Homo sapiens: one gene and its partner. The protein of the gene in region 1 interacts with the protein of each later gene in a biochemical or structural test. Each region holds a gene or a part of one and is shown on either strand. Other genes may lie near its edges.

Region 1 (7,058 bases):
ACTAAAACAGGAGAAATGAAGCTAAATATTTCCATGAGAAGATACAACTTTACCTGAGCCATCTGTTGAATGACTGAGTTAAAGTCTTCATTTCCCAACTTCGGGGTCCACGGAAATAACCCAGATACAGTCGAGTTATTAGAGGGCCTGTGGACATTTCCATTAGTGATGGAACCATCTGTGAACACTAACAAACCTTTCCTAGAAAAATCAAAGTTGGCTGAACAATCTGAGGGTATATGGTTGAGCTGTTGGAGAGAAAAAAAAAGAATCAACAGAAATCTATAGAAAAATTGTTTCTATTTATTAAATATATTTTGACCATTACATAGATACTTTGCACATTAAATATATACATGGAAAAGAAATAAGGTAAAGATAGATCAAATCTGTGTATTCACAAGGCTAAAAATTTTTTAAATTTAGTATTACACAAAATGTTTAATAGCTTAAAATTTGTTCTTATTTCCTGCCTTCTACCACTAGTCCAAGTTAACAGCATGTACACTGACATCTTTTTACACTTCACATATACAGATGCATCCAGTCACATAACAGTGTAAGGCACTAAACCTTTTTCCATTTATCTGTACAATTCCACGTGGGGAGCAACAAAAGATCCACAGGTAGTATATAATGATAATAACTGTACTTATTGAGTGCTTGCTATGAGTAAGTACTATACCAGCATGATTGCAGGTATTATCATTTAATTCTTACAACAATCTAATGAGATATCATTATCCCATTTTGTGAGCCTAAAAACCGAGGCACACAGGGGTTAAGTAACTTACTCAAGATTAGCAGTGAGTCACGGAGCCACTTAAACATTGATAGAAAGAGGAGAATCATGTAATTATGGTGGACATAATTTAAAATATCATTGGCTGATACAACTGCCAAAACAGTAGAATAAAGGTAACATTAAGAATAAATGTCAGTGGTGAAACCCCATCGCTATCAAAAATACAAAAATTAGCCGGGCATGGTGGTACACACTTGTAATTCCAAGGTACTTGGGAGGCTGAGGCAAGAGAATTGCTTGAATCCCGCAGGTGGAGGCTACAGTGAGCCGAGATTGCACCACTGCACTCAGCCTGGATGACAGAGCAAGACTCTGTCTCCAAAAAAAAAAACAGAATAAATGTTAGGCCGGGTGTGATGGCTCACACCTGTAATCCCAGCACTTTGGGAGATCAAGGTGGGAGGACTGCTTCAGGGCCAGGAGTTCAAGACCAGCCTGGGCAACATAGTGAGACTCTTGTCTCAACAAAAAATACAAAAATTAGCTGGGCATGGTGTCACATGCCTGTAGGCCCAGCTACTTGGGAGGATGAAGTGGGAGGATTGCTTGAGCCCAGGAGGTTGAGGCTACAATGATCCATAATCACACCACTGTACTCTAGCCCAGGCAAATACTCTGCCTCAAAAAAAAAAAAAAAAAAAAAAAAAAAAAAAAATGAATGTCAATAAAACCTCAAAGAAAAAATAAAAAACCCCTGGCTACAGGGATTATACAGTCCAATGCATAAAATATGACTGTGTACATAACAACTCCAAACTATACAAATATAAAGAATTGTTATTAGGATAGGGTAGTTACAGCCACTCTTAGTCCAACAAGTGTGATAGATTTCTGCTGATCTTTGCCAATTTCAGTTGCTACCAACAGCATTCACTATTGTGATATTCTGTGACCAAGAGAAATACAGAAAGCTAAACATCAATATAGGCAGTGCTAAAATTAGGGTATAAATTCTGGTCTAAAGAAAGCAATTCACAGAAAGACACATGTAGAATTTAATCCTTAATTGGCTATAAACAAATCACTCACAAAATACTTAATGGGCAAGCATTTTAGTTTATCAGCAAAAACCATTTTTTCCCAAATTTTGTAAATTTTCACTTAACTGTGCTAAATTAGCTCCAATTATGTTTTAAATTCTGCCCAAATTTCATCTATGGTATAGCTACTATTCAAGTTCAGCTTCCAGAATAGGTGATTTAAAAGTAATTTGCCATCCCTGACCCCAAAACAAAGAATCCAAGAGGACAGTTAAAACAATTAATTTCTGGTTCAATCTCAGCACCAAAAAAAAAAAAAAATCCCACAACTGCTAATTTGCACCCCTCTAAGAAGAGGTGATATGTGTCCCTTATTCAATAATGATGTATTAGAGCCTGAAGAATCCAGATAGTGTGGTAAATGAGTAGAAGAAACATAACTATATATTTAAATACCAGGTATTCTGCTTCCAAGGAACTTCTAATCAGAATACGCATGAAAGACAACAAATATTTGATAATTAAGAGAAGTGTGACTATTGTGCTATAAGGGCATGATCACTTCTTGTTAGATAAAAGACTTCGGCCGGGCGAGGTGGCTCACGCCTATAATCCCAGCACTTTGGGAGGCTGAGGCAGGTGGATCACAAGGTCAGGAGATACAGACCATCCTGGCTAACACAGTGAAACCCCGTCTCTACTAAAAAAAATAATAATAATAACACACACACACAAAAAAAAAGACCACACACACACACAAAAAAAGACTTCATAAGGAAAATACGCCTGGGCAAGGTGGCTCATGCCTATAATCCCAGCACTTTGGAAGGCTGAGGTAGGAGGACTGCTTGAGGCCAATAGTTTGAGACCAGCCTGGGCAACATAGGGAGACCCTGCCTCTATAAAATTTTTAAAAATTAGCCCAACTGTGGTGGCACACACCTATCCCAGCTACTCTGGAAGCTGAGGTGGGAACATTGCTTGAGCCTGGGAGGTCAAGGCTGCAGTGAGCTAGGATCACAGCACTGCACTCCCGCCTCAGTGACAGAGAGAAACCTTGTCTCAAAATAAAAAGAAAATATATTTAAGTTAAGCACTATTTTATAGTTTTGAAGATGTTGAGAATTCTCAAAGCATCTGACCTTTACATACTTAAATAAGTACAAAAACCATATTCTAAAACCAAACACAATTTTTTTTTTTTTTTTTGAGACAGGGTCTCAACTCTGCCATCCAGGCTGGAGTGCAGTGGCATGATCATAGCTCACTGCAACCTGGAACTCCTGGGCTCAAGCAGTCCTCCCACCTCAGACTCCTGAGTTGCTGGGACTACCGGTACATGCCACCACATCCAGTTACCAAAGAAAAAATTGATTATTGATATTTCTAAATTATCTATGCCAATGCTACCCACAGGTTATAGGTTACAGGTCCCAATACAGTCTCTTTGCTGAACTGAGTCCTTAAAGATAATTTGTCTTTGTCTATCTCCTCTATCTTTCTTTGATGGTTTGAATATATTAATATAATATATTAATGTAAAACTCTGATGGGTAACTTACTTGACCCTTCAGTTGCTTGATGGACTGCTGAAGTGTGAGTATCTGGTTGAAGAGAGGACTCTTTAGTGTCTCATAAAACATAGATAACTTCTCATTCTGCGACGTGTCACCCTTCTCCTGCAATTTCATTTTCAGGCGATCAAGTACCTGCAGCACCTGCAGTTTATCTTGGGTCAAGATGAATAAGTAGAGTAATAGTTAAGTCCCATTTGAGATTCCATTTTTAAATAATTAATTTAATTATAGAACAATATATCCAGTATACCTGTAGCAGGATTTTCAGGCATTTTGAATTATTCTCTTCAATCACTCTTAAAGACACCTAAAGAAAAAATTTAACAATATAAAAGATGAATTTCAATTGTATATGGCTACAATCCTGTAGAAAAATTAAGGAAAACCTCAAGAACATTCTTTATCAAGGCTCCACTCAGTGAAATTCAAAATTATAACCACAATGAGGTGCCACTACACACCCACTAAGGTAACTAAAATTTAAAAACAGACAACACTAAGTTTCAACGAGGCTGTGAAGTGCCTGGAACTATTATTGTACATTGCTAAGAGAAACGTAAAATATCACAACCACTTCGGAAAATTGGTAGTTTCTTATAAAGTTAAAAATACACTTACTATATGACCCAGCACTTCCACTCACAAATACTTACTCAGTATTCATGAAAATATATGCTCACAAAAACGCCTGCACATGAAAGTTTACAGCATTTTTATTTACAAAAACCCCAAAACTAGAAAAACCCAAGTGTCTAGTAACAGATGAATAAACAAATGGTATATAATATTCAGAAATAAAAAGGAAAAATTACTGATACACACAACAAGGATAAATCTCAAAAATGATATGTGGAAAAAAAGAAACCTGACCCAAAAAAGGCACAAACCATACTGTATGATTACATTCATATGAAGTTCAAGTACTGACAAAACTAATCTACAATTATAGATTAATTTACCTGGGGCAGGGTCATAGGGAACTGACTATGACAGGCTTCAGAACATGCTACTCCCAAAATATGACACCTTGGCATTGTTGAATATTTTAAGTTGAAGGAATCTGAGAAACAGCAGGTGCAAAAAAGACTTCCCCTGAAGCAGATCATAGGATCCTCATGTGAGAGGTGTCCTCTCTATACCCAGAAGATAGCAGCATCTTAATCTCAAAAGACAGAGTGGCCGGGCGCATTGACTCATGCCTATAATCCCAGCACTTTGGGAGGCCGAGGCAGGAGGATCACTTCTGCCCCAGAGTTTGAGGCCAGCCTGGGCAACACAGTGAGATTCCATCTCTACAAAAAAAATTCAAAAATCAGCCACCCATGGTGGCACATACCCATAGTCCCAGCTGCTCAGGAGGCTGAGGCAGGAGGATCACTTGAGCCCAAGAGGTTGAGGCTGCAGTGAGCTATGATCATGCCACTGCACTCCAGCCTGGGGAACAGAGTGAGACCCTGTCTCAAAAATTAAAAAAAAAAAAAATAGAGGAACACCCAGAGGAATATGAACAAACAGGCCTTGTTAAGTTTTTCCCTGTTTACTACTCTTGGCTCATATCCCTTTCTGTCCTATCACATTCCACAACTCTTCCTTCTTCATCAAACCTAATTTAAAAACACTCAGGTTTTACTGTTTCTTCGGGTCTTCCTTTCCTTATGAAGGCTCCCATGTCACATAAAACTTATATTAAACAAGTTTACATGTTTTTCTCTTGTTAATCTACCCTTTATTACAGGGGCCCCAACCGAAAACTTAGAAGGGTAGAGGCTATTTTCCCTCCCCTACACTGGGAAGGGGTTCAAGGAAGCTTTTTTGGAGTGATGGACACATTGTGTCTTGAAGGGGGTATGGTTTACACAGATGTATATACTTATCAAAATTTATTGAACCAGGCCAGGAGCAGTGGCTCACTGTGATCCCAGTACTTTAGGAGGCCAAGGCAGAAGGATCACTTGAATCCAGGAGTTTGAGACCAGCCTGTGCAACAAAGTGAAACCTCATCTCTACAAAAACAAAAAAATTAGCTGGTGTGGTGGCTTGTACCTGTAATCCCAGCTACACTGGAGACTGAGGTGAGAGGATCGCTTGAGCCCAGGAGGTTGAGGTTACAGTGAGCCATGATCATGCCACTGCACTCCAGCCTGGGTGACAAAGGGAGACCCCATCTCAACAAAAAATAAAAGAAAAATTCCCAAGCTGTACAAATGATCTCAGACTCTTACTAGTCATCTACAGCTTGAAAGAAACCACCCAGGCTGGGCGCCACGGCTCACACCTGTAATCCCACACTTGGAGAGATCGAGGTGGGTGGATCACCTGAGGTCAGGAATTCGAGACCAGCCTGGCCAACACAGAGAAACCCCGTCTCTAATAAAAATACAAAAATTAGGCGTGGTGGCACTCACCCATAATTCCAGCTACTCGGGAGGCTGAGGCAGGAGAATTGCTTGAACCTGGGAGGTGGAGGTTGCAGTGAGCTGAGCTCATGCCACTGCACTCCAGCCTAGGCAATAAAGCCAGACTCTGTCTCAAAAAAAAAAAAAAAGAAAAAGAAAAAGAAAAGAAAAAAGAAACCACTCAAAGTGGCATTCTCTATGGATAATGTTTTCTTAATTCCAGTGATTTGATGAAATTAATCTAAAATGTAACGTAATTAAAAACTCAAAAGGCTAGCAAAACCCTTTGCTATGACCAAAATGAGACATTTTCAGTGATCATTTTTACTAGTGATACACACTTGTAATGAACCATCAAAGAAATACAAGTATTATACAATCAAAATTTTCTTACATCAACCTGGATATGGTGGCTGAATGACATCTTTATCTTCTAATTCAAGATCATTAAGCAAAAAAACATATTGAAAACCAATAACGGATGCCATTGACATTGATAAAAGGTCTAAGTATTCCATCCAAATGTTCACTGGATTCAATGGGAATACCAAAAGAAGTGCTGAATAGAGCATCAAAAAAACACTTCTGATGTGCTCAGCATCTCAACTGTACAACTCTTACAACTACCCAGTGACAGGTAACTGTGAATAACAAAAGGGCAGTCATGACAGCACTGTACTCTCATATAGCAGCATACAGCCCAACAGGATTGACAAGAGCGGCCTGCTGGTCATTAACACATCAACCTCTCTAAATCGAAGAATGCAAACTAAAACAATAAGATGACATTTTTTTACTGCCAAATCTCAACTGACATTTATTGATTTATTAGAGATTAATAATAGTTTATACTCCAAATGTCATGAAAAAATAGGTGGAAATAAAAATTTACACAATGTATACTGACACTGCTAAGTTGTCCTAAGAGTGTACAATTTTTACTTCTGAGTGTCACTCTGAAAGAAAAACTGGCAAAGGGGGACAAAGATGTGTGTGCAAGGGTATTTACCACATTTTTAATAGCAAAACTCCTGGAAAAAGTAAATTATCAAAAGCGATCAGCCCGGGCGCTGTGGCTCACGCCAGTAATCCCACCACTTTGGGAGGCCAAGGTAGGCGGATCACTTGAGGTCAGGAGCTCGAGACCAGCCTGAACAACATGGTGAAACCTTGTGTACTAAAAACACAAAAATTTGCTGGGCGTGGTGGCAGACGCCTATAATCCCAGCTACTTGGGAGGCTGAGGCAAGAGAATCACTTGAACGCAGGAGGTGGAGGTTTCAGTGAGCCGGGATCGTGC
Region 2 (8,043 bases), on another chromosome or scaffold:
GAAAAGAATGGAGTAGGGATGATCACAGGAAACAAAAATCTCACAAAACAAAAAGAAAATGAAGTTTATTTAAGTATGACCTTATGAGGAGAATAGTGTAAAGAAGGAAAAACACTTTTCCTCTATCCTCTTACCTTCAATGTCTGAGAATTAAACTGATAAAAGACAGACTGACAAGAGAAAAAACATTTAATTACATATGTACACAAAGCCTTCACAAATAAATGTGACTCAAGGAGGCAATTAGAATTTTTGACCTATACCATCGTAACAGAAGTGATTAAGTGTGAAGAGGCTACACAAAGGAAAGGGGGTATGGGGCTTCCTGTGGAGAACAGGGGTGAGGGGGGAAGTTAGGAAAGGTGCTAGGAAACGTATGATAAATAAGGGTTGTCTAGTAAGGTGTGTTATATGCATAAGCGTCCTCAAGAGATATTTCCAAGTAGATCCTTTCCTGGTAGTAGAGAGGCAGACAACTTTATAAATGGAAATTTATGGCCTACTCTTAGACAGAAAAGCAGGAGGGAAAAAGAGTTTTTCTTGTATCTGCTATTTCTCAATTGCTTTCAGCTCAAAATATTCCTTATGCCAAAATGGCACATTTTGGGGTAGGCATATTGTGGTCCCTTCAATAGGAACCCAGAAAACATCAGGACCAAGACAGCTGCTCTCTCTGGTTCTCTTGTTCTCTTAATTTCAAATTCCCTGGAAAATAATCTGATTGGCATCATTACCAGTTAGGGGTCAATGGTTAGGCAGTGGATTGGCTACATGGCTCAGGTCTCCCCACAGGGGCTGATGCCTTGCCAGGTGCATTGTTATGAGGTGTGCAGGGCTGCCTCCTTCAAGGGCTGTGGATATACGTACTAGGAAGCATTTCTATTACACATACCAGATGTTTGACACCATTCTGATTTTATGAAGTTGTTAAAATCTCATGACCCCACTGTTTTCCAAGAGACAGGACAACCTAGAAGTTTCACATACCAAAAAATGTAACCCTTAACTTGCTTAGCAAAGCTGAGTTTCAAAACCTCTATTCTGCTCTATCATACTTTATCTGATTTTTCCACATTGTACAGCTAATCCCAACTTTTCCTAATTCTCTCCCAACATCCTGATTCCAATTTTTTATTGTTCAAAGTCAAGTTCTTCCAAGAACTAAACAAAGGACTAATAAATATTGGCTTTTCTTAGTGTGGGAGGTGCTTCAGCAGTTTAAGGCAGTGAGGGACACAATCATGATCATGATGTGGATCCTATCCCTTAGGGGAAAAGGCTCACACAAAAATAACCACACCATTTGATATAGAGTGTCAAGGGTCACAATACAGTAAGGAAGAACTCACCCTCTCAAGAAGGGGGAAGGCCAGGAAACTTTCAGAAAGTTTTTACAGGTAATCATTAGGCAGAGCCATGGGAGGATTTGTATAATATATTCAGAGGATGGGGATGGGGTGGGGCTCAGCCAATCCTGAAACCACCAGAGCCACCTGAGCGGAACTATTATTAAGCCCTAGCAACCCTTCTCAGGCCCCGCTTATTCCATTACTCTCTTTCCCTCCTTTGCCACCCACCTCTGTTTTAACATTCCTCTTTAAAAAGAAAACCCCAAAATTATCAGTATTGGCGTACTTTTTGAAGATTTTATCTTCACCTCCCCCACTCCTCCATAGACACCCAGGTATGACAAGAGACTCAGTGCTCCTGCTTCCTCCTATTCCTTGCTGCCTCTGCTATGCTTCTTAGGGAATTTACCACTAATCTTTAGGGGATAATATGAAAAAAATAAACATTGGAAAGTTACAAAGTTTTCGTAATCTTAAAAGTTTCAGGTAGACTTCTTTCTGAGCTGGTAATTGAAAAGTTGTTTGGATTTCTGCTGTTTACTTTCGTTCTTGAGGGTGGAGTCACCAGACCTCCTAATATTCTAACCTTGCCCTGGGCCCCAGTGTCAGCCTGAGCACAGGCCCTCTCCCCACCCCTACTTTCCAGCACTTTTCCCAAGGTGGCCAGGCTAGCAGTTTAAATCATCCTCTTCTCAAGCCAGTCATTTGCATTTCTGTGGATCCTCAGGCTAGGTAACAGTGGTTTCATTCCTTCACTGGAAATCTGGAATTGGGCCATTCCAACTTGGAGGCAAAGGACATTTTTGTAGGAGAGAACTTAATTGGCAAAATAAGCTAGGATTTTGAGGACAAAGAGCACAATCTTCAAAATCATTTCAGTGGTATTCAAGGGCCAAAACATTGGCAACAAAGTAGAAACCTCAAGAAATTCCCTTCAGACAGTTTCTTGGTGAAAAGAAAGGCCAATAGATAGAGATGGTGGTAGGGTAGAAGGAAGGTGGTTTTACCAAAAGCCAGATATTTGGAAGGCTTAGGAAAAATCTTTGGAGGAGAGGGTGTAACACATCATGTAAGAGAGAAATTATAATCAATAGAGCAAAATCCTGGTAGAGAGAAGATGGCTCATGTTTAGGAGCATAAGTGGAGTATGAGCCTTGAAGAGAAATGTGGTCACCCTTCTCAGCCATGACTGAAGGAGGTGAAGATGTGTGAAAACTAGGACTGAGGTTTAAGAAAGTTAAGTTGAGGAACCTCATGGTGGATCCTTCAGTAGAGTACGAGGCAAGATCATTTGCAGAAGTGCAGGAAAACCACGTAAAGTGGGGGCTTCAGGAGAGCAGACATTGGACAGGTTTGGAAGTGGCCTGGATAATGTTCCTGGATAAGTGTTCCAGATAATCATCCTCCTGATGAGGAAAGGAACTGAGAATCAGTGAAGACACAGCCAAGTCTGAATAGCATGAACTTTTAGTGGAATGAAGTGATTCTTTAACCTTGTCTAGCAATGCTTAGTAGCGCAGGAGCAAGTTCAAAAGAAACCTTTCAACTAAATACAAAAATAAACAAAAAAATTAATGTTGAGTGGCAACTTATTTCAGGGGACATTATTCATGGTGGATTTCAGTAACATTTTAATTATGACAAACACGAAATCTACAATATCAAAATAGTCATCTGAGAAAAACACCCACACAAAAAGATTATTGGAGTAATAATCTTTTATTTTCTTCTTTCTATGCTAGCCTAAGGCAAGAGAAAAGACCCATTTTTTCTTTCCATTAGACACAACTTTCATTCATTTGATGTTATTGAAATTTAAAAGAAGCAAAATCATTGGTATCTTTTCATTAAACATGTGTCTCATATAACAATTTGTGGTTTACTTTTTCTGTTCTATAAACAAAAACACACATTAAAAAGCCGGAAGAAGTAAAAAACAGCCTATTTCCATGATGGCCAGCCATGGCACAGCACTTCCTGGCCCCTGCTGATCCCTTCTCAATTCTGAAAATATTTAGGGGGAACATACACACGTTCACCTGTTTTGTTCCACAGTCCTACCCTGTGTAGGACTGTCAACTGAGTTCACATTTTACTACAAATGTGGAGAGGTTTTTTTTTTTCCAATCAAGGCACCATATTAACATTTCTTAGGTTACATCTTTGTAATCTTCAATTATAGTAAGATAAAAACCAGTAGCAAAGCATATCACCCAACTTAAAATTCAGAACAATACTTAGACATATGCAGCTTGCACACACATTAACCTGTTTCTCCCAACAAAATATTTGTAATTTCCAAAATCCTATCAGCTTTTTCACACAATATGGTCCCTCCAATTTGAGGGGTAGTAACATAGTCTCCTTACTAAAGAGATTAGTCTAAAAAAAGTAAAATCGCCAAAAGAATGTAAGAATATCAGTGGCTATAGGCTAGAGCAATATCATCTTTTAAAGCCTAATATGTTCATGAAATCTCACTTTAAGAAGGTGATATCTAAACATAAAATTTATTGACAAAAAACAATTAGTATTGATAAACCACCACAAAATGATTTTAAATGAAAGTAGAAGACATTATTAAAGCTCAAGATTTTTGCGTGTACTGATTTCATGCCTCAGGTTATTTCCATATCAAATTTAAAGAGATACTGGAAAATAGAAAACAAAATCCATCAACTGTAATCCATTTCCCTTACTCTTTTGTGAAATCATCACAAGGTGTGAAGGATTGTTTCTGTTTCCTCTATCTTTAACAAGCCTGTAACCTCTCAAGTGAAAGAACATGCACCTGTCAAGCTCATAGTGCGGGATGTACACACAGATGTGTTTAATAAATATCTGCCCACAGGGAGATTAGAGGTTTGCTTTGAGAATCAGGGAACAGGCTAGCTCATGTGTTGACGCTTTGGCATCTATCATACAATCCGCCACCTCGTTCCCTTACCAAAATATCCTCAAAGGAAATCCTCTTTGAGTCTTTCAGAAGAGTTATGAGTTTGAGGACCCAAAACGTTGAGGAAAGATCCACCCCAGGGAAGGGGGAGTGGCTGCAGAGAACAAACATAAGTAGGATTTAGGTGGCTCAGTGACGTCAGGAGGAAGCAGCGATGGAAGGGATGGGGTGCAAACTCACCTGGAGAAGCAGAAGCTGCACACATGTCAAAGGTCAAAGGGCATAGCCTCAGGGACTCCCCAAACGCAGGAAAAGTGAAACGCCCACTCCTGGGCTCTCGCCGTCAGGGGTACATCTAAGGGCTCAGCTGTTCCTACCTTTGACGCCAGGGACAAACCCTACCAGGCACAGTTGGGATTGGCAGTAAGGCAAGGAAAGCCTGCCCCAGATTTCAGAGCCAGCGCTGGGGAATCTCCCTGTCCTCTCCGCCACCCCCTCCCGCGCCCGAGACCTGAGACACCTTCTCTCTCACACCCACCCTCTCCAGGCCCTCTCGCGCTGAACAGCATCGGTCTCTATGGCGACCTGAAACCGCAGCTCCCATTGGCCTGTTCAATATGAGGGCCGGGCCAATGGGGAGGGCCAGCCCTCTCCTTCCCGCCAATGGGGTGGCGGGAGCTGGCCCGGGGACGGCGGCGTGCTGACGTTCCCGGGAGCCCGGGGCTGGCCGGGCGGGAGGGCTGGCAGCGGGGCGGGCGGCGGCGGCGGCCTCTGGGCAGTAGAGGGGGCTCCGGGGCTGAGTCCGCGTCGACGCCGGCCGCGGAGGCGGCACCATGGGCAAGGGGTAGAGGGGCAAGTTGGCCACCGCCGCCGCCGGGGGTGGTGGGAGAGCCGCTCCGGGGGCGGGGGCCGGTGGGGGAGGGAGGGGCGGGCAGCCGCGCCGCCGCGGCACTTTTTTAATTTTTTCGGGTGCCGCAGCGGCGACCCCTCGGCGCCGATGTCCCTGATCCCTGGAGCGACGACGGCCGCTGCCTAAGCTGGAAAGTAAGTGTGTGGGCTCGCGGGAGGGCGCGGAGACTCCTGCCCACGAGACCCTCGGCCCTCGCCCCGAACACGCGCCAGGGCCAGGACCTGCGCGCCGGGGGCCGGGGGCCTCCCTCCCGCTGCCGCGTCCCCAGCGCCTCGCGGCCGCCGCGGCTTTCCTGCCCCGCCTCGTGTTCCTGCCCGCACTCGCCTGCTGCTCCCCTCCCCCCGGCAGGCGCACAAGTTTCACCCTCCATTTGCTTTTCCCGGCGATTCCTCTCCCCGGTCTCCCGTACGCGCAGCGCACGACCTCTGCCCACGCTGGGCTGTTCGGATTCAGAGCTCCCAGCCCCGAACTTGAGCGCCGCGCTGAGCCCTGCTGGACGCCCTCGCGGCGGCTTCCCCGCTGCCTGCCGCCGCGCGCCCCAAGTCGCCCTCGACACCACTGGGCGCCCGCCCTCCTCAGCACTCGGGGCCGGCTGTCTGTCCTTCTAGCCCCAGATCCTGCACCTTGGTCCCCTCCCCGTCTTCCCACGCCCCTGCTGCCCGCGCGGTCTTGCGTTTGTCCCCGAAGTCCTGTACTCCTTGCCGGTCCTGCCCACCCCTCTGCCTAGTGCGCCCCTCTCTACCGGCCGCGGATCCTCACGCTCCACCCCTCCCGGCTCCCCAGCGCCGAGCCTCGCCGCTGCCCTCCTGCGCCGCCGCTTCCTCCTCTCCCTGCCAGGAGTTGAAGCGGAGCTGCGGCACCTCCCTGGCGGATCTGGTATCCCCGCCCGCTGCCGAGGCTGCCGGCCCTCTCCCCTGGACCGCTACCCGGAGAGCGAGCGGCGGGGCCGGGATTTGGCTGCGTGTTGGCTGAGTGCGACACACCGCGAGCGCGGGCAGTGGAGGTGCCGCGGCGGCCGTGGCCGCTCGGGGCGCAGCGGTAGTCAGGTGTGTGTGTACAGCGGGGGACGCGCGCTGCCGGCTCCTGGGCTGGCGACAGATTGTGCAGGAATGCGAGGAATGCACCAGGGGCAGAGTCCACACAGCCCGCCGCGGCTGCCCTAGCGCCTTCCCTCCCCAGCTCTCGCCGCGCAGCCAGAGGTCACCGGAGCATCTTCGGAGCTGGTGAGCCTCATTCCACTCCTCTCCTCCCATAGCTTCCCTCCATGCGGCAGAGGGGAAGCGCGGTAATTCTTTGGGGCTCCAGCTAGCCTTTCGTCTGGGTTTTTGCTGCATTGGTCTTCAGGACCGTGAATTTGGGGCCGATGACTGTGTAGCCAAGGTTATTGATCATTGCACAGGGCTGTTGGCAAGTTTGGTGTGCAAGGTTTGGATAGTGCCTGGTTTTCACTAGGGTTTTCTGAAAACCAGCAGAAACAGGGGGCCTGAAGGTTGTTAGAGTAATGAGCTTGCAGCCAACATATTTTAGCTCTATCAAAAAATGCCTGTTAGTGCTCACGGGCATGTACTGCGAGAGAGATCTTGAATGCATCACTTTGGTATCCTAAGAAGTGTAATTTTTTTCCCTCGTCATACTGGGCTGTGTTTAGACCTCGTATAATACATAATGAATAGAAACAGAGAAGCACTGTTCGGTCAGCGATGGGACAGATAGAACTGTCTGGTACAGTTAAATTCGGGACGTGTCAGTTACCATTGAAAGTAACACGGGGACACCACAATCATGTATATTTCAAGATGTAATTTATTAGTGGAGGTCTCAGTTTTTTCTCTTTGTTACTGAGTTTGACTGAAAAAAAAAAATAAATGCTGCCCTACAAGTTTTAAAGAACGGTAATTATTTACGTGTAAAATCAATGATGGCTAGTATGCATTTTTGGTCAAATTTTGTTTTCCTTAATACGGGAGAGCAAAATTTTGACAGAAAATGGTTCGCTAGAATTGAGCTTAGATTCTTTTTATTTTTAAAGAGAAACTAGAAGAATGCTTCTCTTCTTGAATGCAGTATATTGCTGTAGGAGTATCTTCGTTTTGGTGCCTGTGAAACAGTTATGGAAAATGGCAACATGAAAACGAGAACAACTAATGTCTGAAATAAGTGTTTCTGGGTGTTGAAAAGCATCATATGTGTGTTTTTATTTGACACAATTTGCTTTGCAGGTTGCATTTATGATAAACCTCTTTGCACCTGGTTATTTTATGTCAGATTCAGTAAAATAATAAGTCAGTTGTCTGACCAATCAGCTTTCTTCCAACACCTACTTTGTGTAGATCATGGACATTGAAAACTATTAAATAGGAGCCTTTAGTTAAGGACTCAACAGAAAGGAAAAAAAATAGAAAAAAATATTTTGCACTCAGAAACGTTTATGTTTTGGTTGCTACGTTGTTTTTCAGCTATGTGCATAATCAGTGAATCTTCTAATTTAGAGGTTTAATTTGTGTCCAGTAACACTGTGGAGGATATTGGGAGGTGTTTGTAAATGCCAACAGGAAACTTTTATTATGTAACAGTATCATATTACAGCAGTGTTTAACCCATGCTTAACCCGTGCTTTTTTGACTTGATGTCAAGATTGGGAAGTAAAAGCAAATTTAGTTTCCCTGCCGCATTAGAAATTGAAAACCCTGTTCAGATGTATGGATCACACACACACACACACACACACGACACACACACACACGATTGGCTGTGCAGATAGTTTTGCCTGCTTCAGGTAAAGGTAACCTTTCAGTTAGAAATGCTTTCTATTTGTTACAGATATTCAAAGAGTGGAAGTTTTTCAACTAGTGATCCTACACAATTGAAAATAACCGAAATTGTATTTT

What was found. Proteins that work in one complex are often made in the same cells at the same time.
Region 2: the proteins of PATJ (region 1) and PKP4 interact in a test that uses a peptide from one of them, tested with the Homo sapiens proteins (2 studies listed by IntAct, with this or other methods).

The regions. Positions count from the first base shown.
Region 1 is NC_000001.11:61,759,469-61,766,526, reverse strand, and holds part of PATJ (inaD-like protein), read right to left. Parts: intron 3,670-7,058; 5' UTR 3,635-3,669; coding exon 3,613-3,634; intron 3,515-3,612; coding exon 3,348-3,514; intron 249-3,347; coding exon 54-248; intron 1-53.
Region 2 is NC_000002.12:158,451,930-158,459,972, forward strand, and holds the start of PKP4 (plakophilin-4), read left to right. Parts: upstream 1-5,022; 5' UTR 5,023-5,201; coding exon of another isoform or gene 5,202-5,525; exon of another isoform or gene 5,526-6,378; intron 6,379-8,043. Other genes in the region: CCDC148 (coiled-coil domain-containing protein 148), read right to left, coding at 4,486-4,510; uncharacterized protein LOC124907900, read right to left, coding at 5,202-5,525. UniProt on the Homo sapiens protein: Plays a role as a regulator of Rho activity during cytokinesis. May play a role in junctional plaques.